Regions from separate parts of the Homo sapiens genome. Here region 1 is linked to region 2. Evidence: fine-mapped QTL for protein levels in blood plasma. Region 2 holds a variant in brackets. A gene starts in the other region. All regions are shown on their reverse strands.

Region 1 (12,559 bases), not on the chromosome of region 2:
CTCTCAGGGGACAGCGGGCGGGGCCTGATCCACCCTCTGGTTTCTGACCCTAGAAGACCTGCCTTTCTTCGGTTCCCGGTTACTGGCAGCAGCCCCCTCCTCCCACAAAAGATCAGGTTCCAAGCTTCTCCTTTTAAAAGTACTTAGAATTCAGCCCCCAGCTCTCTCCTCCCTCACACCCAGGAATCCAGGCCCCTAGCCCCTCCTCCCTCAGACCCAGGAGTCCTGGCCCCTAGCAGCCCCCTCCTCCCTCAGACCCAGGAGTCTGGGCCCCCAGCCCCTCCTCGGTCAGACCTAAATCCCAGGTCCCAGTCCCTCCTCCCTTAGATTTAGGAGTCCAGGCCCCCAGCCTCTCCTCCCTCAGACCCAGGAATCCAGGCCCCCAGCCTCCTCCCCTCTCAGAACTAAAATCTTGGCCCCCAGCCCTTTATGTTTCAGATCGTAGAGTCTCAGCACCGAGTCCCTCCTCTCCCTAGCCTCAGGAGTCTGAGATTCCAGCCCCTCCTCCCTCAAGATTTCACGTTCAATCCCCTCCGCCCCTTCTCACTCACACCCAGTGTTCCAGTTCCCAGAAGCTCCCCAGGCTCTAGTGCAGGAGGAGAAGGAGGAGGAGCAGGAGGTGGAGATTCCCAGTTAAAAGGCTCCAGAATCGTGTACCAGGCAGAGAACTGAAGTACTGGGGCCTCCTCCACTGGGTCCGAATCAGTAGGTGACCCCGCCCCTGGATTCTGGAAGGTGAGGTGCAGAGGTACTCAGATACAGACATCAGGCCCCGGACCCTCCTTCTCCAGATTCCAGGACCCCAGCCTCAGATGCCCTTCTCTGTCGAGATCCAGCAGTCTGGACCCCGGCTTCCTCCTCTCCCTAATTTAGGAGTCCCAGCTCCCAGCTCCCTGTCCCCTCAGACCCAGACATCGAGGACTCCCCCCTCCCTTGGAATGTAGGAATCCAGTCCCCCAGCCTCCTCCTTCCTCCAGAGAAGCCCAGAACAGCCCCAGATACTCTCGGCTGCCTCCCCAGTGCCCAAATCCAGAACTGGGAGCTCAGGCTCCTCCTTCCTGTTTACCGGCCCCGCCCTCTCCATTTCCCAGACCTCACCATGGGACGCCCCCGACCTCGTGCGGCCAAGACGTGGATGTTCCTGCTCTTGCTGGGGGGAGCCTGGGCAGGTGAGGAGGGTTGCGGAGGCCTCCGGAGGGGAGGGATCTGAAGGCAGCAGTGGCGCTGGGGAGTCTGTGGGAATGCCGCGGGGGTTATGTGGGTGCGTGTGCACGGATGTGAAGAGTGCGATACGGTGCAGGAGCCTCTGTGGGCTTTCCTCAGGGTGGACAGAGGCAAGAAACAGGTAGCAGCAGGTAGGAGTAGGTTCCGTGATGCTGTAAATTGTCTGAATAGCTACAGCCTTTGGGGGCTGCTTGCTTGGGGGCATAGATTCACCTGGGAGTACTCGGGGCCTGTAGACTCATGTGGAAGCATGTGGGGGCATTCTTGGGTGTGTGACTCTTGTATGATGACACATGGACTGAAATGAGTGTCCCCGTGTGGCAGCGTGTGGAAGCCTGGACCTCCTCACTAAGTTGTATGCGGAGAACTTGCCGTGTGTCCATTTGAACCCACAGTGGCCTTCCCAGCCCTCGCACTGCCCCAGAGGGTGGCGATCCAACCCTCTCCCTCCTGCTGCAGGACACTCCAGGGCACAGGAGGACAAGGTGCTGGGGGGTCATGAGTGCCAACCCCATTCGCAGCCTTGGCAGGCGGCCTTGTTCCAGGGCCAGCAACTACTCTGTGGCGGTGTCCTTGTAGGTGGCAACTGGGTCCTTACAGCTGCCCACTGTAAAAAACCGTGAGTGGATGATGGGGGCAGAGGTCAGCTGGGGCTTAAGGAAAGAGGGGGCTGGGGTTTCGACTCAGGAAGGAGAGAGCTGAGGACTGGACTCCTGGGTCTGAAGGAGGAGGGGGCTGGGGGCAATACCCCTGCCTGGGTCCCAAACTATCCCCACCATTACAGGAAATACACAGTACGCCTGGGAGACCACAGCCTACAGAATAAAGATGGCCCAGAGCAAGAAATACCTGTGGTTCAGTCCATCCCACACCCCTGCTACAACAGCAGCGATGTGGAGGACCACAACCATGATCTGATGCTTCTTCAACTGCGTGACCAGGCATCCCTGGGGTCCAAAGTGAAGCCCATCAGCCTGGCAGATCATTGCACCCAGCCTGGCCAGAAGTGCACCGTCTCAGGCTGGGGCACTGTCACCAGTCCCCGAGGTAGTGGGCTTGTCCACTAATGGGAGGGAGAGGAGGAGCTGGTTGGCCCAGTGGAACCCAAGCTATTGGCAAAGCTTGGTCCCCCAGAGGGAGACAAAGAAGGGAAAGTGATCATGATGTTGAGATTCACAAGCAGGAGTCATATGAGAAGCCTCGAAGATCTGACTACTAACAAGAGTGGTGAGAGAAAGAACCAACTAGCAGATTGTTAAGCAGGGCCAGAAAAGCCCATCCTGTATGGCGGAGAGCACTACCCTATGGGACCTTTGGTTGTATAGGATTTTATATAATCTTAACACACTTGGGATATTTGGACTTCTCAGAGGCCCAGGAAAACAGGCTCCTAAGCACCTTCTCCCCCACCTCCCTCCTTTTTTTTTTTTTTTTTTTTTTTTTTTTTTTTTTTTTTTTTGCAGGGGGACACAGTTTCACTCAATCGCCCAGGCTGGAGTGCAGTGGCACAATCTCAGCTCACTACAATCTCTGCCTCCTGGGTTTAAGCGATTCTCGAACCTCAGCCTCCCGAGTAGCTGGGATTACAGGCACCCGCCACCACGCGAGCTAATTTTTGTATTTGTTGTAGAGACAGGGTTTCGCCATGTTGACCAGGCTGGTCTCGAACTCCTGACCTCAAGTGATCTGCCCGCCTCGGCCTACCAAAGTGCTGGGATTACAAGCATGAGCCACCGCCCCTGGCCTTTTTCTCCTTCTTGAACCCAGGAAACCTGGGCCCTGGTCACCTCTTCCCTCAGACCCGGGAGTCTAGGCCCTTCTTCTCCCAGGACCCAGCAGTCCTAGCTCCCTCTTGACTCTGGACCCCAAAATCTGGACCTCCAATGAAGCTGTCCCTTTGGGACTCCAGAATCCAGAGAGCCCCTCGCCTTCCTTCACAGTGAAAACATTGGGACTCACCTAAGAGAGTCAAGGAGCTTCTCCAGGAAGTGGCAAAGTCAGCATTCAGGTCCCTGCCTGCCTCACTCCTGCTCTGAATGCTTTGGATGAGACAGTTTGCGGCTGTGGAAACACACGTGCTCGCAAATCAAGTAGATCAGTTCAAACTATGGCTCTGCCCTTTCTCCCTGGGCAAATTCCTTTCCATCTCTGAGCCTCACTTTCCTTATCTGCAAAATGGGAATCATTAACCAATAGATTTTTTAGCTACGTGAGGGTTCAGGTTACATCAGTTTTCTTCATTGTGTTCTCCTAGTGCTCAGAATGGTGCCTGCTACATGGTAGATGCTCAATAAATATTTGTTGAATGGATGACCTGATGAATAAATAATGAAATGAATGAATGCATCTCTCCTTCAAAGCGCTGTTGTGAGGATTAAATGAGATTATGAGCATATTGCTTTTGGCACGTAGAGATGCCAGATGGAAGTTTTTCCCCCTCAAAGAGGCTTTGGAGAAGTCTATTCCTCAAAAGAGGTTAATAAAAAAGATCAATTCCACCTTCAATCATTAATTCAACTCTTATTTACTGAGCACCTAGTATGCCTGAGGTGCTGTTGCAGGCGCTGGATATACAGCCATGAGCAAACTGTACAAAGTCCTTGTCGTTATGGAGTTGCAAGCTAGGTGGGAGAAATAGACAATAAACAAATACACATAAAATAAAACATTAGGCAAAGTGCTGTAAGGAAATATTGTGGAGCGTAAAAGGATAGGGAGTAATGGAGGGATGGTATTTTTTAATTCGAGTGGTCAGGGAAGGCTTCCAGGAGGAGGTGACACTTGGAAGGAGCAGGATTTAGCACAGATTGAGGACCCGGTTGTCTGAGGGCAGGAAGACTGGAAAGAGAGGGTCAGAGGTATCATAAAGGGGCACCTCCAAGTAACCCCCAGCCCCTTGATTTGAAAATGGCTCAGGGTAAGAAAAAACACGTGAGATCCAAGGGCCCCTCTCTAGATGGAGAAAGCCCAATAGCAACAAGTACAGCTTCGTTTAATGTGGTGAGAAGTGATGTCCCCTGTGCACAGTGTCAGAAAATTCCCCCATGCAGCTGGAAAACTCCCCCATTACATCCTGGAAAGAAAGGGGGTTAGATCCAGACAGGGATGGAGGCAAAGGGCTGCTCTCTCAGGGAACCTTACAACCTCTTCCCCCTCAGAGAATTTTCCTGACACTCTCAACTGTGCAGAAGTAAAAATCTTTCCCCAGAAGAAGTGTGAGGATGCTTACCCGGGGCAGATCACAGATGGCATGGTCTGTGCAGGCAGCAGCAAAGGGGCTGACACGTGCCAGGTGAGCAATTTCTGAAATCCTTCTCCTCACACATCCCTCATTGCCCTCTCGAGGTTCAAGGCTTGGATGGGGGTGGGGGTGGTAAGGGAGTGACCCCAAAGACTTGGCACCCGGAGTGTTCACCCCTATCTCTACGGATTGGGAGCCAGGTTCAGAGAAGCCAAACTCTCTCTCTGAAAGTCACACTGCATAGGGATTAGGAGCATTGAATTGCTGCTGCTGTTTTCTTTCGAACGCTTAACTACAGGATGGGATGCAGAGTTGGGGGCTATAGAGGGTGGGGTAGATGTCCAGCAAGGAGAGAGTCTGAGGCTAGAGTTTAGACGAGTTGCCTGCTCTCTGGTTCCCAGCATTACATCGTGGAATTTGTGCCGACTTTACCACCGGCCCGGTGGTCAGCCACTTTTCTTTGAGACCGGGCTAGAATCCCAAGGCTGGTTCCCTTCTCCTGTGATTGGTTCCTTGGGAGACAATGGTGTCTTCCCAGTTGGCTGGAGTAAATGGTGCCATTGACTTCAGTGCTTCCTCAATGAGCTCCAATCCCTTTCTCTTGGGATTTGTCATAGATATAACTCTCTCTTCTAACTGCAACTTCGTTGTTCCTAGCACTTTCCCCTGGCTTTGTCCACTTCCTGGAAGCCCCACCACCTTTGCCAATGACTGGTCCCTAAATACAATGCTTTCTTCCCCATTGGCCAAAAATGGAGTCGTTTCCATCAGCGATACTGCCATGAAAGCCAGTCTCTGGATTGTTCTGTAGAGATAGTGGTCTCTTCCACAAATATTTCAGCCATGGTCTCTTGGGGATATGGTGTGTGTGTGTGTGTGTGTGTGTGTGTGTGTGTGTGTGTGTGTGTCCATAAGAATCTTGATCCTTTCTCCTATGTTTGGCAACTGCAATCAATGATGCCTTCACTATTGGCCAGGAACAGAGGAAACTTCAGCTCAGTCCTCTCCAAGTAATCCCTACTGTCTTCTCCCTGGATTGGACCCTCGAGAACTCTTTTTTTTTTTTTTTTGAGACAGGGTCTCGCTCTGTCCCCCAAGCTGGAATGCAGTGGCACAATCTTGGCTCACTGCAGCCTCTGCCTCCCAGTTCAAGCAATTCTCCCACCTCAGCCTCCCGAGTAGCTGTGATTACAGGTGTGCACCACCACACCCAGCTAGTTTTTGTATTTTTAGTAGAGACAGGGATTCACCATGTTGGCCAGGCTGGTCTGGAACGCCTGACTTCAAGTGATCTACCGCCTCGGCCTCCCAAAGTGCCGGGATTGCAGGTGTGAGCCACCAAGCCTGTCTGGGATTTCATTCTTTCCCCTCTTCTGTCAGTGTTTTGACCACTACCCTTAGACACCATGTCTGTCTGTACATGGAAGCCCCAAGCCCTGTCCTGACTGGTCTCAGGGGACAATGCTTTTACCCCCATTGGCTACAGGGGACCAATCATGCCAAAGAACTGGTAAAACGCTGGGACAGCAGGAAAAGGGACGTTGTGGACATCTCAGATGCAAGGCTGTTCTCATTCTCCCTGTCTAGGGCGATTCTGGAGGCCCCCTGGTGTGTGATGGTGCACTCCAGGGCATCACATCCTGGGGCTCAGACCCCTGTGGGAGGTCCGACAAACCTGGCGTCTATACCAACATCTGCCGCTACCTGGACTGGATCAAGAAGATCATAGGCAGCAAGGGCTGATTCTAGGATAAGCACTAGATCTCCCTTAATAAACTCACAACTCTCTGGTTCCTTGCCTGTCTCTGTTTTGGCCCTGTGGGGAGGGCTGGATGGGGATCCGGGATTGTTCCTGCTGGCAGACTAGGTGGGGATGTGCAGAAACCAAGTTCTCATGGTCACTTTGGCCATCACCACTGCCTAAAGTGATCCCTCGTTTTCTGGAAGAACTTGGGTAAGAGCTTTATTTCAGGGGAGAAAATACATACAAAGGTCTTCAAACATTCAGTGGGCTGGTATGTGAAAGACAGTTTTGAAAGAGTTTGTGTTTAGTTTTCCTGAGCAAAGCATTTACAAGCTTTGGAGATAAAATTTTCCCCCTTTAAAAAATAATTGGCCAGGTGCGGTGGCTCAAGCCTGTAATTTCAGCACTTTGGGAGGCCGAAGCGGATGGATCACCTGCGGTTAGGAGTTCGAGACCAGCCTGGCCAACATGGCAAAACCCCGTCTCTACTAAAAATACAAAAATTAGCAGGGTGTGGTGGTGGGCATCTGTAAACTCAGCTACTCAGGAGGCTGAGGCAGAAGAATCGCTTGAACCCAGGAGGCGGAGGTTGCAGTGAGCCAGGGATCATGCCATTGTACTCCAGCCTGGGTGACAAGAGCAAGACTCGGTCTCAAAATAAATAAACAAATAAATTAATAATAATAATTGTGCCAGGTATGGTGGCTCATGCTTGTAATTCCAGCACTTTCACAGGCTGAGGTGGGAGGATCACTTGAGCCCAGGAGTTCAAGACCAGCCTGGGCAACAATGTAAGACCTCATCTCTATTTTTATTTAAAAAAAAAGAAAAAAAGAAGAAAAGGGAAAACATTGGGAGATATGCATAGAAAAGAGTGCAGAAAATATATGAACAGCTTAAATATTCACAAATGAACAACCATGAAACCACCACTCGGGTCAAAAATCTTGAGAGCTCCCAAAAATCCAGATAGAACTCTTTCTCACAGCCTAGAGCCATCTGGTGGTGTCTGCTGTGGTAGAAGGAAATGAGTGGTGTGTCCAAATTGAAGTGTGACGCAAAGGGCATTTGGGAAAGTTTTCATTAAAGCAAAGGCTTAACATAACTTGTTTTAGGGAAAGATGAGTGTGGAGGGGGTAGTTATTACAAGGATATAGTCACTCTTCTAGTGGTGCAGGCCAGGTGGGCCCAAAACTGGAGCTTAGCCAGGGAGGGTTCCTGGCTTTGTCCAGGAAATAATTCAAGGGCAACCCAGTGGTGTTAGTGACTTTTCTTGAAACAGTACTGCACAGTAGCAGAGGTACTGCTCTTTGCAGAGCAGGGCTACCCCATAGGCATTGAGCACAAAGTAGCAGCTCAGGGCCAGTTCTGTAGTCATATTTAGTCCCATTTTCAATTACATGCAAATTAAGGGGTGGGTTATTCAGAAATTTCTAGAAAAGGGCTGATAAATTTTGGGTGTTGTCATGGCAGTGGCAAACTGTCATGGTGCTGGTGTGCACGTCTTATGGAGATGTGCTTTTGGTGCCTTTTCCCTGTTCCAGCTGTCTTCAATCTAGTCCAGAGTTAAACCCCGCCTCCTCCTTCACTAGGATCTTTAGAAAATAGTCTCATGAAAGAGAATCTGATTCATCTAGCTCACCTTTTCTTCTTCAGCCACATCATTGGTCACTGAATGGCCAATCATTTGATGGCATCCCAGTCAGGTGACCAAATCTTAGCCAATCAGTGGCTACTTGGAGTCATGTGATATGAAACATGGCCACTTAGTGCTATGGGAAGGCAATTCTCCACAAGGGGCGTGGGTGTGTGAGATACCTTGCATTCATCAATCTCCCTGATGCTTTATGACAGTTCCCCCATACCAGAAATCCTGAGGAAGTCTTTCAAGCATGGCATTAAACTTCTGATGCCAGGGATGCATTTCTGGGGGGGACATCTCAACTCAAAGAATTGTTTTATAATTTTTATTATGGAAAATTTCAAACACATGCAAAATAGAATAACATAATGTGTCTTCATATACCACCATCCAACTTCGATAATGAATGCAAGGTCCGGTGCAGTGGCTCACGCCTGTAACCCCAGCACTTTGAAAGGCCGAGGCACGAGGATTGCTTGAGCCCAGGCATTCAAGACCAGTCTGGGCAACATAGGGAGACTGGTCTCTACAAAAGATTAAAAAATTAGCTGGGCATGGTGGCATGCGTCTGTGGTCCCAGCTACTCAGGAGGCTGAGGTGGGAGGATCACTTGAGCCTGAGAGGTTGAGACTGCAATGAGCTATGATTGTACCACTGCACTCCAGCCTGGGTAACAGAGTGAGACCCTATCTCAAAAAAAAAGTTAATGCAAAACCAATTATTGTTTCACCTATACTCCCACCACACACTTCCCTAATGCCAGAATATTTTGAAGCAATCTCAGTCACCACAACATCTCATTCTTAAATATTTTATTATGCATTTTTAAAACAGGGGATGGCAAATTACAGCTGTTGGACCAAATCTCCTGAGCTAAATTTTTTTTTTTTTTTTTTTTTTTTGAGATGGAGTTTCGCTCTTGTTGCCCAGGCTGGAGTGCAATGGCGTGATCTCGGCTCACCGCAACCTCCGCCTCCCTGGCTCAAGCAATTCTCCTGCTTCAGTCTCCTGAGTAGCTGGGATTACAAGCATGCACCATCACGCCCGGCTAAAATTTTTTGTATTTTCAGTAGAGACAAGGTTTCTCTATGTTGGTCAGGCTGGTCTTGAACTCCCGACCTCAAGTGATCTGCCTGCCTCCACCTCCAAAAGTGCTGGGATTACAGGCGTGAGCTTGATAAGGAATAGCAACAAAAAATTTGTACTAAATTATCATTACTACATTTTGAATTTCATCAATTAAAAATTGTGAAATTTTATTTTCTTTCCTGCTATTAAATATCTACATAATATCTTCCATTTTTCTCTCTTGGTCCACATAAGCTAAAATATTTACTCTCTGGCCCTTTATTTTAAAAATTTGCCAATCCTTGTTCCAAAAGAGACTCGTTTTAAACATAACCAACTTACATTATCACACCTTACACAGTTGATACTTTCTTAGTATCATCCAATGCCAAGGAGATTTTTTTCCTTTTTGAGACAAGGTCTTACTCTGTCACCCAGGTTACAGTACAGTGAGCATTGCACAAACAATGCTTAAGGCAGTTTCTACCTCCTGGGTTTCAGCCATCCTCCCACCTCAGCCTCCTGAGTAGCTGGGACCACAGGCATGTGCCACCACGCCCAGCCATTTTTTTTTTTTTTTCAGTAGAGCTAGGACTCTACCATGTTGCCTAGGCTGGTCCAGGAGATACTTTAATGTCTCCAGTGGAACATAAGCCTGAAAAGACTTGGGGATTGATTTACTCAATCTTAGGTACTAAGGAGGGGCATGGAGGGAACATAGCAGCTACTAACAGAAACAAAAATCTCCTTTCTCCTGGCATCTTGATATTAATCCCAGGGAGGAACTCTAATTGGTCCAGTTTGAACTGGGCCCACCCCTTGAATCTATCATTGTTGCCAGAGAGAAAACACTGATCTTGTTGACTTGGCCTGGGTCATTTCTCCGCCTCAGTGGGTGGGTGGAGTTGGAGAACTACGATTGACAGTTTCACCAGAACTATAAGAAATAAGGCAGCATCTCCCCCAAAAGAAATGGGGTTCTGCCGGAAGGTGGAGGTTGCAGTGAGCTGAGGTCGCACCACTGAACTCCAGCCTGGGTGACAGAGTGAGACTCTGTCTCAAAAAAAAAAAAAAAAAAAAAAAAAAAAAAAAAAGAAAGAAAGAAAGAAATAAGGAGGAAGAGAATCCAGGAAGTATGAAACAATGGGCCATCAGAACCCATGGGCTGAGTCAGGAGGTACGAGGGTCACAGTGTTCAGAATCCCTCAGGGAAAGGCATAGCTGGCAAGATTATCAGATGCCAGTTCTCAGGTGTGATCATAAGGTGGAAGATGAGTCATTTAACAAAGGTTCAGGACATAGGTCTGAGGACGATGGAGGTATGGGGCTGGGTGTCTGGATGACACTTAGCAACAGGTGCCAGGACTAAATGCAAAGGGCACAGGGGGCCTGGATATGGGCCTCTCTCTGACATGGGGGTATGCATCATTAATAGGCTGAGGGCGATCCAAGTCTGTTTTGAACCAAATGAGACTCAGAGGGTACATGTGGATGTAACAAGGAAATTTCCTTCTCAGAGTATGGATTTGTGCAGTAGTGATACCATAGGCCTTTGAATCCCAATGTTCAAATTCTGGCTTTTTTTTTTTTTTTTTTCCTGAGATGGAGTCTTGCCCTGTCACCCAGGCTGGAGTGCAGTGGTGCAACCTCGGCTCACTGCAACCTCTGCTTACTGGCTTAAGTGATTCTCCTGTCTCAGCCTCCTGAGTAGCTGGGAGTATAGGCACATGCCACCACATCCGACTAATTTTTTGTATTTTTAGTAGAGATGGGGTTTCACCATGTTTGCCAGGCTGGTCTCGAACTCCTGACCTCAAGTGATCCATCCACTTCGGCCTCCCAAAGTGTTGGGATTACAGGCTTTAGCCACCACGCCTGGCTGAATTCTGACACTTCTGACTCCTCAGCTCTGTGACTTTGCTCAAGTGATCTAGCCTTTTTTAAACCTCCATTTTCTCATCTATAAAATGGGGATGATGGGGCAGGCGGCAAAAAATAAAGGTAAAATGGGGATGACAATCCTCACCTGGACCAATGTGAGGAATACAGACACACCACACTAAATGTAGGGGGGAAAATGGGAGCTGCTTCTTCATTCCGTGGGTGATGGGCTGAGGGAACTCATGTTAATTCACTGGCTGTTATGTGCCCATCAATTTTCCATTCATAATTTTATTTAATCCTCTCATTTGCCTCGGTAAATAGGTTTTGCTCTCCTCCACTTTGGGGAGGGGCAAAGTCTGACTCAGAAAAATGAAGTCACTTACCCGAAGTCACAGGGTGGGCAACCAGGATTCAAAGCTGGGTTGAAAGTCCAAGTTCTTTCTAGTTCTTTCTGTCACACTGCATGGTGGAACAGCTCAGGGATCAAGGCAGGACTGAATCTAAGGCCTGTGGACCTGTGGATGCCAGAAGTTTGCAGACTAGTATTTATTTAAGTACCTCCTGTGTTCTCCGGTCTGGGCGGGGTGCTGGAAAAAAAAAAAGAACCCCACACACATTTCCTCTGCTTGTGATGACCAGTGTTTGGCAACAAAATCAGGTTAAATAATTAGGAATATAATTTACAGAATGATAGATGATGAAAAGCAGAGGATAGACGTTTTGGTGACTTAGGAGTGAATAACAGGGCTCTAGAGTAGCCTGGCTCCTTCCTCTTTCTAACAGATACTAAGGAGGCAGAGGACTGAGGGAGGAGAGAATCTAAGGATGAAGATGCAGGGAGTAGATAATACACTGGAAGTCTTGCTACCATTTCTGTCTTTGAGAAGCCAGGAAGGAAAGATACAGATTGCTGAATCATGGAGCTGTGAGGTCAACTGGGCTGGAGTCTGCTTCTCCTTGATTTGGGAGCCCAGGTCAGGAATGTTGACACCCTTCACGACCAGATTGCTGCTGTGGAATGGGCAGGGCTAGATGTCCAAGTTCGGGGATCTGATTTTGGATTCGATGACAGTAAATGTCTCAGAAGATTTTGGGACTCGGCTTGAGTTGAGTTAGTATAGCATCAATGTTAGCAAGATATTCGTTGGCAGACTTTATTTTAGAGTTTTTGTAAAATGAAGAGTCAAAGTTGTGTGGTGAGCTGGAGAAATAAAAATGGAACTGGGAAAAGAATTGGGGATGGAAATGAGAATGGGATTTTAGGTAGCAATTGGGTTGAGGATGAGAATAGGGGTGGGATGGGGTGAGAGTGTTAGAATTGGTGTTGGATGTGAGGGAATGGGTTCATGGGGGAGGATATGAATGTGGGCTTCCTAGAATATGATGGGAATGGAGACTAATGTCTGAATTATCCCGTGGCAGGCTTGATACTCAGGCTATGGTGACATTCACTGCTCAGGTCAAGGTTGAGTTTGGCTTATGGCTAATGGTTCAGGGTTAAGGTCAAGGGTCAGGAGGGTTAAGTTTGATTGAGGTCTGGATCCTAGCCTGAGTTGATATTTGGAGTCAAGAACTCAGTCAAGATTTAGGTTATTGGTTGAGATACAAATTGGGGTTCATCAAGGATAAAGCAGAATTTGAGGTTCAGGATTGGGTACAGATTAAGGTTTGGGGTTAAGACTGGGGCTTACTAAAGAGTCAAAAAAACAATAGATGTTGGCATGGATGTGATGAAAAGGGAACACTTATACACTGC
Region 2 (16,874 bases):
GTCATCTAGGGGTGAACGACACGGATCTAGCTCAGGTTCGTCTTCCCACTATGGTCAGCATGGGTCTGGCTCCCGTCAGTCTTCGGGCCACGGCCGACAAGGGTCTGGATCTGGCCAGTCCCCTAGCCGCGGCCGACATGGGTCCGGTTTGGGGCACTCCTCCAGCCACGGCCAACATGGGTCTGGCTCAGGTCGTTCTTCCAGCCGTGGCCCATATGAGTCTCGCTTGGGTCACTCTTCTGTCTTTGGTCAACATGAGTCTGGCTCAGGACATTCCTCTGCTTACAGTCAGCATGGTAGTGGCTCAGGGCACTTCTGTAGCCAAGGACAGCATGGTTCTACATCAGGACAGTCATCAACCTTTGACCAGGAGGGATCTAGCACAGGCCAGTCTTCCAGCTATGGCCACCGTGGCTCTGGCTCCAGTCAGTCTTCTGGCTATGGCCGACATGGGGCTGGATCTGGCCAGTCTCTTAGCCACGGCCGACACGGGTCTGGTTCAGGGCAGTCTTCCAGCTACGGCCAACATGGGTCTGGCTCAGGACAGTCCTCTGGTTATAGTCAGCATGGAAGTGGCTCAGGGCAAGATGGGTATTCTTATTGCAAAGGAGGAAGTAACCATGATGGGGGAAGTTCTGGCTCATATTTTCTCAGTTTTCCTAGTAGCACTTCACCCTATGAATATGTCCAAGAGCAGAGGTGCTACTTTTATCAGTGAATAATAAACATAAATGCAATTTACTCAAGTAGCAATTTAAGAAATAGGAAAGTCATCTATGAATTCATCATGAAAGACAAGCAATCCATCATGAAATTCGTTCTAAAAGTGAATCAATGCATTTCTGTCTCTTTCTTTAGAGCCTAAAACTGTAGCATATATCTTGTTATGGGGTTCCTTCCAAAGACTGTTAGGCATTTGTGCTACTTTGTTAGAAAATACTGAGTGGAATAACTTGTTAGAATGAGGGTTAAACTTTGAGGAATAATGAAAAGCTTTTAAAGAGCTTTGGGTTTAGTTGGAGTTGTCTTTTTGAGAGCTCATCATTCATTTATAGATGGTGCCAAAGCTAACCTTACATTTCTTAGAAGCAAAATATTACAAATGCATTACCAGTCCTAGATACAAAGCTTTGTTTTACAGCAATTAGTGTACCCTAATTTTTAGTGTGCCCCAAGTTTGGTGTGTCCCAATTTTTGGTATTGTGGCAGAAGGTGAAGGCTCTGAAAGCAAAGATGCAGCAGCGGTAGTGTCTTTACTTATCAAAACCATCAAGTCCTTTTTCTTGGGTATATATTTAATCAGTAAGTTAATTAGTGGCATAAAAAAGTAGCATCAGGGTCTTTTCCCAAGCCAGTGAGCAAGAGCATTATTTCATAAAGAATAGGGATTTATCATTTCAGGAAAAAAAAAAACATTCAAATGTGGGCTTTAGCTTGTTTTCAGCAGAAAGATCTTGCTCCCTATTTCTAAGAGGCTGCTCAATATTGGGAAATATATTGAGGAGTTATTCCATGGAAATACAATGCTTTCCACCTACTACTGTAGTTCAATAACGTTTCCACCTGAAAAAATATCATCCATGCCCAGATGAAAAGGAAGAGTATCTGTCACTGCTACATAGTTCCTTAATTTGACTGTAACACATTTGTTTCAAGTCTTTGGATTCAAACAACCGGATTGTATTAAAATTGACAATAAATAAATGTTGATTAAATACTAAGACTTTTCTCATCTGTGCTTCATTTCACTTCTTACATACAGATGGTCATCCTAGAAACCAAACCAAACAGCGATTTCCCAATATTCTATTTTTCACAATGAAGAATAGATAAAGCATTCTTAAAACTCAATAAGACAAACTACTTCATTTTAAAATGATCAAAATTCCATCACACTGGTATTGGCAATGATTTTTTTGATATGACACCAAAATCACACACAATAATGTGGAGCTGTCAGCTCCATACATTTTATTGTCCCTGAAGCCCTTAGAGGGAGACAACATATGGAGGTAGAAGGCGATATTTGTCTTGGTTTAACAAAAACTTTTTAGTGTTAGTTTTAATTTTTAACAAAAAAAGTTTTTTAAAAAAATTTAAAACAGAAAAAAGCCTACAGAATAATGATGTAAAGAAAAAAATATTTGTGTTCAGCTATACAATGTGTTCGTGCTTTAAGCTAGGTGTTAATTAAGAGAGTCAAAAAGTTTAAAAATGTAAAAGTCTATAAACCTAAAAATTTACAGTAAGCTAAAGTTAATTTTTACTGGAGGAAGAAATTCTTTTATAAATTTAGTGTAATTCAAGTGTATAGTGTTTACACACTCTACAGTAGTATACAGTAATGTCCTAGGCCTTCCCATTCACTCACCACTCACTGACTGACACCTACAGCAACTTCTAGTCCTACATGCTCTATTCATGGTAAGTGCCCTATACAAGTGTACCTTTTTTATCTTTTATGCCATATTTTTACTGTACCTTCTTTATGTTTAGATACATTTAGATGCACACTTACCATTGTGTTAGTTGCCTACAGTACTCAGTACAGTAACATGCTGTATAGGTTTGTAGCCTAGGAGCAATAATCTATACCATATAGCCTAGTTGTTTATTGGCTATACCATCTATATTTGTGTAAGTACACTCTCTGATGTTTGCCTAAGGGTGCATTTTTCACAACATATCCCCCATTGTTAAGCAACACGATTGTGTACTTTACTATAGGGCCTAGCAATTCCACTCCCAAGCGAAATGACAACGTATGTCTACATTGAAGATTTTTACATGAATGTTTATAGCAGCTTTAATAATAGCCCCAAACTTGAAACAATCCAAATGTCCACGAACAGATGACTGGATAAACAAATTGTGGTATGGCTATACAATGGAATTCTATTTAGCAAGGAAAAAAAGAATAAACTACTGATACATGTAACACAGATGAATCTCAAAAACACGTTGATCAAAAGAAGCCATCCACAAAAGAGTACATATTTATGATTCCATCTATATGAAACTTACTAAAACAAACCTAATCTATAAAAATAGAAAGTAGATCAGTGGTTGACTAGGGCTGGGAGTAGAACTTGTGAACTGTCTGGAAGAGTCACAAAGGAACACTCTAGGGTGATGGAATAAATCTATATGTAGATTATAATGGTAGTTACATATATATATACTTTTGTCAAAACTTACATAATCGTACATATTATGTGGAAATTATATCTCAATAAAGTTGATTGTTTAAAGGCTTTCTGTGCAACTTGACACACGAATTTTTTTTGTTTTTTGTTTTTTGTTTTTTGTTTTGAGACAGTCTCACTCTGTTGCCCAGGCTGGAGTACAGTGGCACAATATCGGCTCACTGCAACCTCCATCTCGTGGGTGCAAGTGATTCCCCTGCCTCAGTCTCCTGGGATTACAGGCAGGCAGCACCACATCCAGCTAATGTTTGTATTTTTAGTAGGCAGGGTTTCACCATGTTGGCCAGGCTGGTCTCGAACTCCTGACCTCAGGTGATCTGCCCGCCTCGGCCTCCCAAAGTGCTGGCATTATGTGAGCCACCAAGATACAGAAGGGGAGGAGTTTCATCTCATCAGATATCAAAATATATTACAAAGTTATATGATTTAAAACAGTGCAGTATTGTTGTAGGAACAGATATACAGAGCAATGTGACTCCAGAAACAGATCCATGCATACTTGATATACAAGAGCAGTGGTTTTGCTTATCAGTGGAGAGAGGCAACTCTTTCAATAAATGGTGCCAAGGTAATAAATTTTCCATAGGAAAAAAATTATCTCTATTTCACACCATTTACAAAAATCACTTCCAAGTAAATAAAAACCTAACTGTGATAAGCCAAACTTTTAAAAATTTTTAAAGAAAATATAGGAGAATATCTTTATGACTTTGAAATAAGTGCAGATTCTTTAAACAAGAAATATACAAACCACCAAGGAAAGACTCATGACTTTTACTATAATTAAATTACAAATGTCTGTAAATCCAAAGACAATCTCAAAAAGTAAAAAGGACAAACCACAGAGTCCAAGAACATTTTTGAAATGCCTATAAACAACAGATGATCAATAGCCGGATTATGTAAATAACTTATAAAAATTAAAAATTTAAAAAACAGCAAAACTTAGAAAATTCACCAAAATTTATAAAAATTAAAAATTAAAAAGAAACAGCAAAACTTATAAAAAGAAAATTCACCAAAGGTAATCTGAATGGCAAAGTGACATTTTTAAAACAATGCTCAGGGAAATAGATAATTAAAACACAATGAAATTCATTTCATACCCATCGGATCAGAAAAAAACTAAAGTCTGGCAATATCCAGTGTCGGGAGGATACTGAGCAGCAGGAGTCTGAACTGATACCTAATTAAGAGGAAATCTGGCAACCACAGACAAGTCTGTAACAGCAAAATGTTACAAACAACCTAAAAGTTCAATAGAAGAATGGATAAATTGTAATATACCCACACACTAAAATGCTATATAGCAGTTAAAATTCATGAGCTACAGGTACGTATATATCAACATGGACAAATTCCAAAAGTGTAATGCCAAGTGAAAAGGTTGCAAAACAAGTATACATGGTGTGATACCATTTATATAGGTTTACAATATACATAACAATACCATATATTGTTTGTGGTTAATACATATTTGGTAAATGTAAAAATCTTTATGGGAATGATAAACAGCAAATTCAAGACAGTGTGTACCTCTGGAAGGATGGAAGAAAATGGAACTGAGATCGAGTAAACAATACCAAAAGTTTTCTTAAGAAGATGGTATTCATTATATCATTCACTGACTTGTAAATCTACACTTACTTGTAAATCTTAAATTATTTTGTAAGAAAAAGGAGAACACAAAGAACAATGTTAGAATGCCCATCAAGGACTGCTCAAGGGAGAGTGTTCTGACAAGCTAGTCCACTGGTGTATCTGGTCCAGCATGTCCTAGTCTTTTAAATAAATGTCTCACCACATGAGTGCCTAATGATATTCATCAGCTGAACCACACAACACACCCTCTGCCACAGACTTCAAACACACCAAGGGGCCTTCTAGAAAATTTGGCTTTCTCAAAATTGACAAATGGGATCTAATTAAACTAAAGAGCTTCTGCACAGCAAAAGAAACTACCATCAGAGTGAATAGGCAACCTACAGAATGGGAGAAAATTTTTGCAACCTACTCATCTGACAAAGGGCTAATATCCAGAATCTACAATGAACTCAAACAAATTTACAAGAAAAAAAAAAACAACCCCATCAAAAAGTGGGTGAAGGATATGAACAGACACTTCTCAAAAGAAGACATTTATGCAGCCAAAAAACACATGAAAAAATGCTCATCATCAGTGGCCATCAGAGAAATGCAAATCAAAACCACAATGAGATACCATCTCACACCAGTTAGAATGGCAATCATTAAAAAGTCAGGAAACAACAGGTGCTGGAGAGGATGTGGAGAAATAGGAACACTTTTACACTGCTGGTGGAACTGTAAACTAGTTCAACCATTGTGGAAGTCAGTGTGGCGATTCCTCAGGGATCTAGAACTAGAAATACCATTTGACCCAGCCATCCCATTACTGGGTATATACCCAAAGGATTATAAATCATGCTGCTATAAAGACACACATACACATTATGTTTACTGCGGCACTATTTACAATAGCAAAGACTTGGAACCAACCCAAATGTCCATCAATGATAGACTGGATTAAGAAAATGTGGCACATATACACCATGGAATACTATGCAGCCATAAAAAATGATGAGTTCATGTCCTTTGTAGGGACATGGATGAAGCTGGAAACCATCATTCTCAGCAAACTATTGCAAGGACAAAAAACCAAACACCGCATATTCTCACTCATAGGTGGGAATTGAACAATGAGAACACTTGGACACAGGAAGGGGAACATCACACACTGGGGACTGCTGTGGGGTGGGGGTAGAGGGGAGGGATAGCATTAGGAGATATACCTAATGCTAAATGACGAGTTAATGGATGCAGCACAGTAACATGGCACATGTATACATATGTAACAAACCTGCACGTTGTGCACATGGACCCTAAAACTTAAAGTATAATAATAATAAAATTTTTTAAAAAAAGAAAATTTGGCTTTCCATAATTTTCCCAAAAGGAGAAAGCATTCATCAGCAAGATTAATATAAATACCCAGTGTTTCTGATAATGCATTTCTGACTGTAAATTAATAAAATGGCACTCTGGTTTTTATACTTCAGTCCCTGATGAGTTCAGTTACAATGAAACAGTTTTCCTGAGTCTGATCAACTCTGGGGCACTGATATGAGTGCATTTCTGGGTATATAAGAATGAGAACCAAACCCTGACCCTTTTTCTGGGCAACACCCCAACCTTATTCTTTGCCTTCCAAGGGGTAAGGGGCAAGAAAATTTTTCTAATAAGAGAAAGCAAACAAATTCCCAATAAATGCTTAGTTATATAGTTAAGCCAAGTTTTTCACAATGTTTCTCTTTTCCTTGTTATGACTCTAGAAACTTAAGAACCATAATGTTACAGCTAAAATAAGAAAAGAGAAAGAGGTGGGCTGTTTCAGGCAGGATCTTACAGAATCCCAATACCTCATCCCCAGATGGATCTCACTTTTGTTAGTTTTTGTCTGTACATTCAAATGTGATCAAGCTCTGGGAGACAGATTCACTCTAAGCAAAGTCTTAAGGGTCCAATTGATTTATTTACTAACTACAAGATAATAAACGTATTCAGAACAAGAATCAGCTGTTTAACATGGGGTATTCCCTGTCATTGGATAGATTCATTTGAGAGATATCAGGTTATTAGATGAGCTTCAGAGCAAAAGAGTTTTATTCTCCAAGGTTGTGCTATGGTAATCTGATGATTCAAAAATTTTTCCTAAAAGGGATAGAAAAATACAAAAGCAGCATTGTTATTGAACATCTTATGAACTGGGAACATTACATTATGTGCTATATACTTGACATATATTTATTTATTGTTTAATTTCATTCTCATAGCAACCCTGTGGTTATAAATGTTATTTTACTGAAGAGCAAACTGAGACTTTAAAAGGTCAA[G/A]TATATTATATTAGTAAAGTCAGGTTTTATACCTAAATCTGTCTAACTCCAAAACATATGTGTTTGCTAACATAACACTGTCTTGTGCTTCAGTAATATTTTTCTCTAAACAACTACAGTCAAACAACTAGGACTGGTGCAATCCACTCTTCTGGACACTGCTGGAGACACACCAACTAGTACTCATCCTCAGACTCCCCCTTTCCTGCTTCAATGCAACCAAACTTAATGTCTTGAGAGAGACTTGAGGAACACCCTGCTCATTAGCAGCACTTAATTTCCAAGGGTGGACTCCTGCTGCAGATAACTCATCTCTTCACATTTTATTTATTTCATCACATTTAACAGTTCTCATTAGTTTCAATTCCAGAGGGTGGCATTTTCTGACTTGACCTCCTTAATGCATGCCTTACTTTGTAGGTCACCAGGGACTAATAATAAACAATCACACACAGTCTGGTATCTTTTGAAAGATAAGTATCTGATACCCAATTCCTTCAATAGCCTGTCTCAGCCCTCTTCCTCTACCCCTCCTGTTCTCTCAGACTCCCTGACTCTGTGTGCTCTACCCTAGAAACAAAGGGCTCCTGAGCATCACCACCCACCTTGGTTTGTCCTTACCTACAAATTCTTGCCAGAACACTCCAGATGTTGAAGACTTAAAATTGTGACAAATCAGCCATGCAATATTCATAGACTTCACAAGCAGAGAAGTGAACTCCATGTGCAAAGACACTGAGGAAATAGTGTTCTCAGGGATCAAAGAGTATATGTCTTTGGCTGAAGCATGTAGAAAAACCAGTATCAGGAACTGCAGCTGGAAAAGCAAGTTGGAGGCAGGCTGTAAAGGGCTTTAAATAGAATCACATGAAGGAGGCGGAGAAGAAAGGTCAGTGAAGGACACTGATAAAGATGAATCAAAGTTGGAGGAGAGGCAGAGAAAATGGTGTTCTAGAACCCAAAGAGAGGGAATTTCACTAAGTAATGGAAGATAAAATGCATTTTATAAAGTTATTATAAATACTCTTCTGCCAGATAGCATATTGGCAGAAGAGTAGATAATACAGATCAATATAACAATAAATAGCCCAGAAACAGATCCTAATATATATATTTTTAATTAATTTGTGAACTGTCTGCTACATAGTTAATATATATAGTGTACTTAGAAAAGTGTCTGGTCCACAGTAATCATCTAATAAATATTAGTGGCTATCTTTATTACTACTTGTTGTTATAATTCTTATTAAATATCAGTGTGAAAAGATTCTTTAAAAAGTTTGTAGTAAAGAGGAAATAAGAGAGTAGGCAAGGAAGAAAGAAAAATCCTTTATAAAGGAAGAAATTAAAATATATGCTGGAAACACAGGCAGCATGCAATAAAAATTTACTGAATGTGAATAACAGTTCTAAGTCAAGTGGAAGGTGATTTATAGAAAGTAAGAATCTGTTGATACAGAGAAAGGAATCGTTGTTGGATCAAGGACCTAGAAGGAATGACAGAAATTGAATCAAATATACACATAGAGAAATCAGTCTTGGAAAGGAAAAGAATACCTCATATACTCTTGAAACAAAAAGGAGATTAAAATTCAGCAAAAATACAATTACCTCCATGTTTTTAAAAGAGGTTCCTAGGATGAGCTGCATCAGAATCACCTATGGTAATTATTTAAAAAGCAAACTGATGGCCTCTATCCCAGATCAACTAAATCCAAATTTCTAGTAGATGGGACCCAGGAATCTGTATGTTAGTGGTCCATGACCTAGTTGATTCCTTTTAGAAACAAAGTTAGGAGAATTCACATCCGTTGGCCCCTATGGAGACAACAAAACTGACTCCTTGCCCAACCACCATTATGACTAAGCATATAAAGTCGCACCATTGGAGAGGAAAAACAAAAATCTTTACAACCCTGAGATAAGCTAAAAATGAGGAAGAAGATTCTACCTAGTCTTCCAAATCAATGAAGCCTTGAGCCCTTTCCTATAAATTGCTAACTCTCTAATGTAAACAACTTCATCCCTGACTTTTGCAACACTGACACCTACAAGTATGATAATGATATGGAGGAAATTTTTTCATCCACATGAATAGACTAACTGTAATCTTGGTAGCCTGACTCCTCATTCTTTTTGAATCACTTCCCAATCTTAACAAAGAAGGAAGTAAAGTGATCTACTAAAAGGAAGATGGGGAGGGAGTGAAGCAGGAGGCTTAGAAAGATCTGAAAAGGGAAAGGTCTGAAAATTCCAGCTGAGGGGTCTGGTAAAAGAAACCACCTAGGTATGATGAAAGGGATTGCCAGGCAATATTCAGAGTGTGGGCAAGGTTAATATAATAAATGTGTAGAAATAAGCTAAGGCACCATGTATGTGATATTTGCCATCTTAACAGCCTGGCAGAAGAAGCCAAAAAAAAAAAAAAATGGAATTAGGTTAATCCCAGGTTTGAGACTGGCAGGGCAGGTACAAGGAAAAATGAAGGGTCCAAGGACACATAATGGTCTGTAGAGAAGGTTATAGGTATGGGAGGAAAAACCAGAAACCCTTACAGCAGGGGTCCCCAACCCCTGGGCTACAGACTAGTACTAGTCTGTGGCCTGTTAGTAACCAGGCCACACAGCAGTAGGTGAGTGGCAGCCCACCGTGCATTACTGCCTGAACTTCGCCTCCTGTCAGATCAGCAGCTGCATTAGATTCTCATAGGAACACGAACCCTATTGTGAACTACACCAGGAGGGATCTAGGTTGCATGTGCCTTATGAGAATCTAATGCCTGATAATCCAAGATGGAACAGTTTCATCCCTAAACCATCCCACCCCCACTGTTCTCCCATCCATGGAATAGTTGACTTCCATGAAACCAGTCCCTGCTGCCAAAAAGGTTGGGAATTGCTCCCTTACAGGCCCCCTCCTTGGCCCAAACTATATGTGTGTGAAGGGACGGATAATTTTATAGCCAAATTTCCCCTAGGCAAGACCTTACACTCTCGACTCCATTATTGTAGGAAAGATGGGCCTTGTTAGCAGTAGCAACTTTTCAGGTAAAATAAAACTAACAATATGGAATATACTAGGAGCTATGTACCAATGTCTCATTACTTACCCCTTTTTTGCCTTCACAATAACTCTTTGATGCAGAGATCCTTAAACTTCTCCTCAGTATGCAAATTGAGGTTATAAATCCAAGGACACACAGCTCACCTATGATGTAGTTCAGATTTGAACTCAAGTGTGACTATGAACTCATTCTCAATCTACTAGCCCACAGTGACTTCACCAGAACAGCCAGGCTCCACTTCACAGAAAAAGGAAAACAGCATCATTAAAGGAAAACCAGATTTCTAAGAGCAAGGGATGGCAGGGAGTAAGGATATAGGGATATTTCTTGGCAACAAAACCAAAGAGAATGAAACATAATGTAGGATAATTAGCAGTGAGAGCACAGCAAATAAAAGGCAATAAGTAGCTGTAAATATTATATCTGAAGGCATGTGTGCATGGGGAGTAGTGGAGGTGAAGCTAAGAGCCAAGTGGAGAAGGAAGTGAGAGGAAGAAAGTGAATTTAGCCCACTCACCATCATTATCTCTGACATCTCTCAAAGGAAGTAGAGTGGGAAACAAAAGGAGATTAAAGCAAGTTTGTCTAGATAGGAAGATTCATCATGCCTGGCAGGAGGGGGTCACTGTTATTGCAACCTTTAACCCAATCCTTTTCTCTTCTGCCCACTTTGGGGAGTGATCTGGGTGACTTGGTTTGTTCTTTTTTGAGATGCTTACCAATTGCTGACAACAATCACAATGCATTATAACATGATTGAGGCCCACAACTTCAAAAGTGTGATGATGGAATCCTAGATAGATATGAAAGAAGGCAGGAAGGGGACTGGCAGACTGAAAAAATAGAGACAGGATAAGGAACAGATTTCTTTGAAATGTGCATACCCTGTCTACCAGCAGTTCTACTCCTACTCGTATACCTCAGAGGAGTTTGCATGCAGACATACTTCATTTTATTGTGCTCCACTTTATTGTGCTTCACAGACTGTGTGTTGTACAAATTGAAGGTTTGAGGCAACCCTGTCTGGCAAGTCCATCGGCACCATTTTTCCAACAGCATGTGCTCCCTTCATGTTTCTGTGTCACATTGTGGTAATTCTCACAATATTTCAAACTTTTTCACTATTATTATATCTGCTATGGTGATCTGTAATAAGTGATCTTTGCTGTTACACTTGTAATTGTTGAGGGCACCACAAACCTTTCCTATATGAAACAGAGAGTTTAATCGATAAATGAGTGTTCTTACTGCTCCAGTGATCAGCTGCTCCCCTTTCTTTCTCCCTCTAGTCAGGCCTATCTATTCCCTAAGATACAATATTGAAATTACGCCAGTTAGTAACCAGACAATGGCTTCTAAGTGTTTCAGTGAATGGAAGAGTCACATGTCTCTCACTTTATTTTATTTATTTATTTATTTATTTATTTATTTATTTATTTATTTGAGACAGAGTATCACTCTATTGCCCACGATAGAGTGCAGTGGCAAGATCTCGGCTCACTGCAACCTCTGCCTCCCGGGTTCAAGCGATTCTTATGCCTCAGCCTCCCAAGTACTGGGATTACAGGTACAGACAACCATGCCCTTCTAATTTTTAAATTTTTTGTAGAAATGGGATATCATTATGTTACCTAGGCTAGTCTCGAACTCCTGGCCTCAAGTGATCCACCTATCTCGACCTCCCAAAGTGCTGGGATTACAGGCATGAGCCACCAGGCACAGCCACATGTCTCTCACTTTAAATAAAAAATAAGAGCTGGGCACGGTGGCTCACACCTGTAATCCCAGCACTTTGGGAGGCCAAGGCAGGCAGATCACCTGAGGTCAGGAGTTCAAGACCAGCCTAATCAATATGGTGAAACCCTGTCTCTACTAAAAATACAAAAATTTACCAGGCGTGGTGGCAGGCACCTGTAGTCCCAGCTACTCGGGAGGCTGACACAGGAGAATTGATTGAACCTGGGAGGCAGAGGTTGCAGTGAGCCGAGATCATGCCACTGCACTCCAGCCTGGGCGACAGAGCGAGACTCCATCTCAAAAATAAATAAATAAATAAATAAATAAGATTAAACTTAGTGAGAAAAGCATGTCAAAAGCAGAGAGAGGCCAAAAGCTAGGCCTTTTGTGCCAGTTAGCCAAGTTTGTGAATGCAAATGAAAAATTCTTAAAGAAAATTAAAAGTGCTACTCCTGTGAACACATGAATGATAAGAAAGCAAAACAGCTTTACCACTGACTTGGAGAAAGTTTTAGTGATCTAGATAGATCAAACCTGCCACACCATTATCTTAAACCAAAGCCTAATCTAGAGTAAGGCCCTAACTCTCTTCAATTCTATGAAAGCTGAGAGAGGTAAGGAAGTTACAGAAGAAACGTTTGAAGCTAGCGGAGGTTGGTTCATGAGGTTTAAGGAAATAAGCCATCTCCAGAATATAAAAGTGCAGGGTGAAGCAGCACATGCTGATGGAGAAGCTGCAGCAAGTTATCCAGTAGATCTAGCTAAGATAATTGATGAAGGTGGCTACACTAAACAACAGATTTTCAATGTAGATAACACAGCATTCTATCAGAGGAAGATGTCACCTAAGACTTTTATAGCTACAGAGATGTCAATTCTCTGGCTTCAAAGCTTCAAAGGACAGGCTGACTCTCTTGTAAGGGACTAATGCAGTTGGTGACTTTAAGTTGAAGCCGATGCTCATTTACCATTCTGAAAATCCTAGGGCCCTTAAGAATCATGCTAAATCTACTCTGTGCTGTATAAATGGAACAGCAAAGCCTGGATGATGGCACATCTGTTTACAGCATGGTTTACTAACTATTTAAGCCCCCTGTTGAGACCTACTACTCAGAAAAAAGAGATTCCTTTCAAAATATTACTGCTCATTGACAATGCACCTGGTCATCCAACAGCTCGGATAAAAATGTACAACGATGTTTTTCCTGTGCCTGCTAACACAACATCCATTCTGCAGCCCATGGATCAAGGAGTGATTTCAATTTTCAAGTCTTCTTATTTAAGAAATACATTTTGGAAGATTACAGCTGCCATAAATAGTGATTCCTCTGATGGATCTGAGTAAGGAAAATTGAAAATCTTCTGGAAAGGATTATCCATTCTAGAAGTCATTAAGAACATCCACGATTCACAGAGAAGTCAAAATATCAATATTAACAGGGGTCTGAAAGAAGCTGATTCTAACCCTAATAGATTACTTTGAGAGATTCAAGACTTCAGTGGAAGAAGTAACTGCAGATGTGGTGGAAATAGCAAGAGAACTAGAATTAGAAGTAAAGCCTGACATATTTACCTAGGTAACAAACTGCACATCATGGACACATACCCCAGAACTTAAAAGTCAAATAAAAAACAATAAAAACAAATTGATTAAAAATTTTTTTTTAAAAAGTAGAGCCTAAAGACTTAATTGCTACAATCTCATGATAAAACTTAAACAGATGAGAAGTTGGTTATGAATGAGCAAAGAAAGTGATTTCTTGAGATGGAATCTACACCTGGTGAAGATGCTATGAACACTGTTATGATATTCCATAAACTTAGTTGATAAAGCAGTGGCAGGGTTTGAGAGGATTGACCAATTTTGAAAGAAATTATACTGTGGGTAAAACTGTATCAAACAGCACTGCATGTTAGAGAGAAATCTCTCGTGAAAGGAAGAGTCAGTCAACACAGGAACCTTCACTGTTGTCTTCCTTTAAGAAATTGCCACAGCCACCCTAACCTTCAGCAACCACCACCCTCATCAGCCAGCAGCCATCAACATCAAGGCAAGACCCTTCACCAGAAAAAAGATTACAACTTGCTGAAGGTTCATTAGCATTTTTTAGCATTGAAGTATTTTCAATGAAGGAATGTATACTTTTTTAGACATAATGCTATTGAGCACTCAATAGAGACTACTCTACAGTGTAAACACACATTTATACACACTGGGAAACCAAACAATTCATGTAACTCACTTTATTGCAATATTCTCTCTAATGCAGTAGTCTGGAACTGAACCTGCAATATCTCCAAGGTTTATCTATATTTGTGATAATAATATCTAATAGTTATATAAAACATACTATGCACTAAGCACTACTATGTATAACTCTCTCAATTACCCTAGGAGATAGACCATTCCAGATCACCATTTTACTGATGAGGCACAGAGGTTAAGTAATTTGCTATGGTCACATAGCTGCTACTGAAACCAAGCAATGAGACTCTAAAGTTTTTGTTCTTAACCCAGGGCACCACATGTGGCTATGCAATTCATTCACTGTCCCAGTGGTGCCAAGAGGAAGCAAGTTGGCACAGAAATCCAATCCATGTCCCAGTTAATAATCCATGCATACCTAGTTAAAAGCTACATCCACCTCAGTACTTTTATCTTTGCCCCAGGCACTTTCTATTTGCCAAGCTGTGAGCTCAGAGGACTAGGTCCATAAAAAGAGGAAGTCTTTCTTATTCACACAAAGGTGCCATATAGTCTAGCTGTGGTGCTACCTTAGCCATGGCACTACACTGACCTATTTTGTTTGGGAAGACATTTACAAGGGTGTTTAATACAGCATTGTTTGTAATAGTGAATTTGGAAAATGGATAAAGTATACTATATTCTTATATTGGAAAGCTACAGTGCACCTAGAAGAAAATAACTATTATATATACACATAGATTTTAAAAACATAATAACTTTGAGTGAAAATCAAGTTGCAAACTATTAATATGTACACTACATTACATAAATTTTAAAATGTAGTTACATATTTTATACATATATATACACATATATTTATACACATACATCACACATATTTACCAAATTAATTTTGGTGGTACTTCTGATAAGAAAAAAAAAAGATTAGAACTTGGGGGTGAGAAACACAGGAGACTTAAATTTACCTGCAATGTTTTATTCATTTTAATAAGACCTGAAGCAAATACAACAAAAAGTTTACTACTGTCAGCTCTAGATGGTAGCCATGCAATTACTCAAGATAAAAATAAAAAGACTATTTTTTAAGAACAGGCTTAGTGGGAACTTAAGAGTAGGAGAGCTAAAAGGCCATTCTGTGTGATCAATGAGTGACATTTCAGGGTTCACAGCTTCAGAGGTGGAGCAGTTATGGTTGATGACAAGGTCCAGGGGGTGGTCATTTGAATAGCTGGCTGAGGTAGAGTGGAGGTAGAGATCAATAGAGTGTAAGAAATGATGGATCCAGATGCATCACCAACATGACTGTTGAAGTTTTCCAGAATGATTATAATAGCTAGGGTGGAAAGAAATAGACAGTTGCCAAAGTCTTCACTGAAGATTATGTGGTTATAGGGGAAGGAGATCAGTCAAGGAAAAAGTAAGGATGGAAAGAGGGTGGAATGTATGTGCATCAATGAAGGAGTGTTTATTGAAAGAAGCCACAGTGGTGAGCAACAAAATCATGTTCAACGCACCTCTAGCCACAACACAACAGAGGGAGAATGTGTAACCTGTACTTGGAACTGCTGAAAAGTAGTATCATTCAGGAAAAGTCTAGTTTCGGTTAAGGTGAGGAGGTAGTTACTTCAAAAATCCTACTGAAACTCTAACTTTGTAATTCATTGACCCAAAGCTATGGGTTCAATCAGAAAGGAGCAGTAGATTTTACCAATAAGCCAAAAGAACAAGAAGGAGAAGGAGGATCATGAAGAGGAGGAGGGAGAAAGAAAAGAGGAAGGAAGGAAGGGAGAAAGAAAACAACAAATGAAAAAAAAAGAGAGAGAAAAAAGAAAGAGAGAGAAAGAAAGAACAAATGAATGAAAGACAAAAGAAAGAAAGAGAGACAGAGAGGAAGAAAGAACAAATGGAAGAAAGAAAAAGAAAGAAGAAAAGAGGAGAAAGGAAGAGGAGAAGGAGGAGGAGGAAGAAATAAAGGAAAGAAAGGAAAGAAAGAGAAAGAAAGAGGAGGAGGAGAAGGAGAAGAAAGAAAGGAGGAGGGGGGAGGAGAAGAAGATGAGGAGGAGGAGGAAGAGAAGAAAGGGAGAAGAAAGGAGGGGAAGGAGGAAGAGAAGAGGGAGAAAGGAGAGAGAAGGAAGGAGGAAGGGGGAAGGGGAAAAAGGAAGGGGGAAGGGAGAAAAAAGAAGAAGAAAGAAGAAGGAAGAAGAGGAAAGAAAGAAGAAAGAAGGAGAAGGAGGAGAAGGGGAAGGAGGAGGAGGGGGAGGAGGAAGAGGAGAAGAAGAAAGAAAGAGAGGAAAGAGAGAGGGGAAAGAAAGAAGGAAGGAAAGAAAGAAGGGAGGAAGGAAAGAAAAGGAAAGAAAGAAGGGAGGAAGGAAAGAAAAAGAAAGAAAGAAAGAAAAGCTCTCGCTCTCCCTCTCCCTCTCCCTCTCCCCACGGTCTCCCTCTCCCTCTCTTTCCACGGTCTCCCTCTGATGCCGAGCCGAAGCTGGACTGTACTGCTGCCATCTCGGCTCACTGCAACCTCCCTGCCTGATTCTCCTGCCTCAGCCTGCCGAGTGCCTGCGATTGCAGGCGCGTGCCGCCACGCCTGACTGGTTTTCATATTTTTTTGGTGGAGACGGGGTTTCGCTGTGCTGGCCGGGCTGGTCTCCAGCTCCTAACCGCGAGTGATCCAGCAGCCTCAGCCTCCTGAGGTGCCAGGATTGCAGACAGAGTCTCGTTCACTCAGTGCTCAATGTTGCCCAGGCTGG

Which allele goes with the higher level. Alleles are on the strand shown, and positions count from the first base shown. The strength of an association depends on the size of the effect and on how common the allele is.
In carriers of allele G in region 2, the plasma level of the protein whose gene starts at base 663 in region 1 tends to be lower than with A alone (weak association).

Evidence for each region. A credible set is the group of variants that fine-mapping cannot tell apart. PIP is the posterior inclusion probability: the model's chance that the variant is causal. The UK Biobank Pharma Proteomics Project read protein levels with antibody pairs (Olink). The fine-mapping took linkage between variants from a reference panel, not from the people measured, so its PIPs are less certain.
Region 1: KLK8 starts here. The variant in region 2 is the best candidate, but not a certain one, in a credible set for the plasma level of the KLK8 protein (UK Biobank, PIP 0.83).

What each region holds. Positions count from the first base shown.
Region 1 is chr19:50,989,708-51,002,266 of GRCh38, reverse strand. KLK8 (kallikrein related peptidase 8) reads left to right here and starts at 663. Exons shown (of 6, transcript NM_007196.4): 1 at 663-735; 2 at 1,092-1,169; 3 at 1,684-1,843; 4 at 2,009-2,271; 5 at 4,383-4,516; 6 at 6,053-6,259. The coding sequence starts at 1,100. The coding sequence ends at 6,208. RefSeq lists an enhancer at 7,760-8,054 and a silencer at 11,608-11,808.
Region 2 is chr1:152,196,920-152,213,793 of GRCh38, reverse strand. The region is part of intron 1 of CCDST (cervical cancer associated DHX9 suppressive transcript); the gene reads right to left. HRNR (hornerin) reads left to right here. Exons shown (of 3, transcript NM_001009931.3): 3 at 1-1,718. The coding sequence ends at 718. Among named protein-coding and RNA genes, the nearest start is that of CCDST, 16 kb to the right of the region's middle. The variant G/A (reference allele first, on the strand shown) is at 7,118.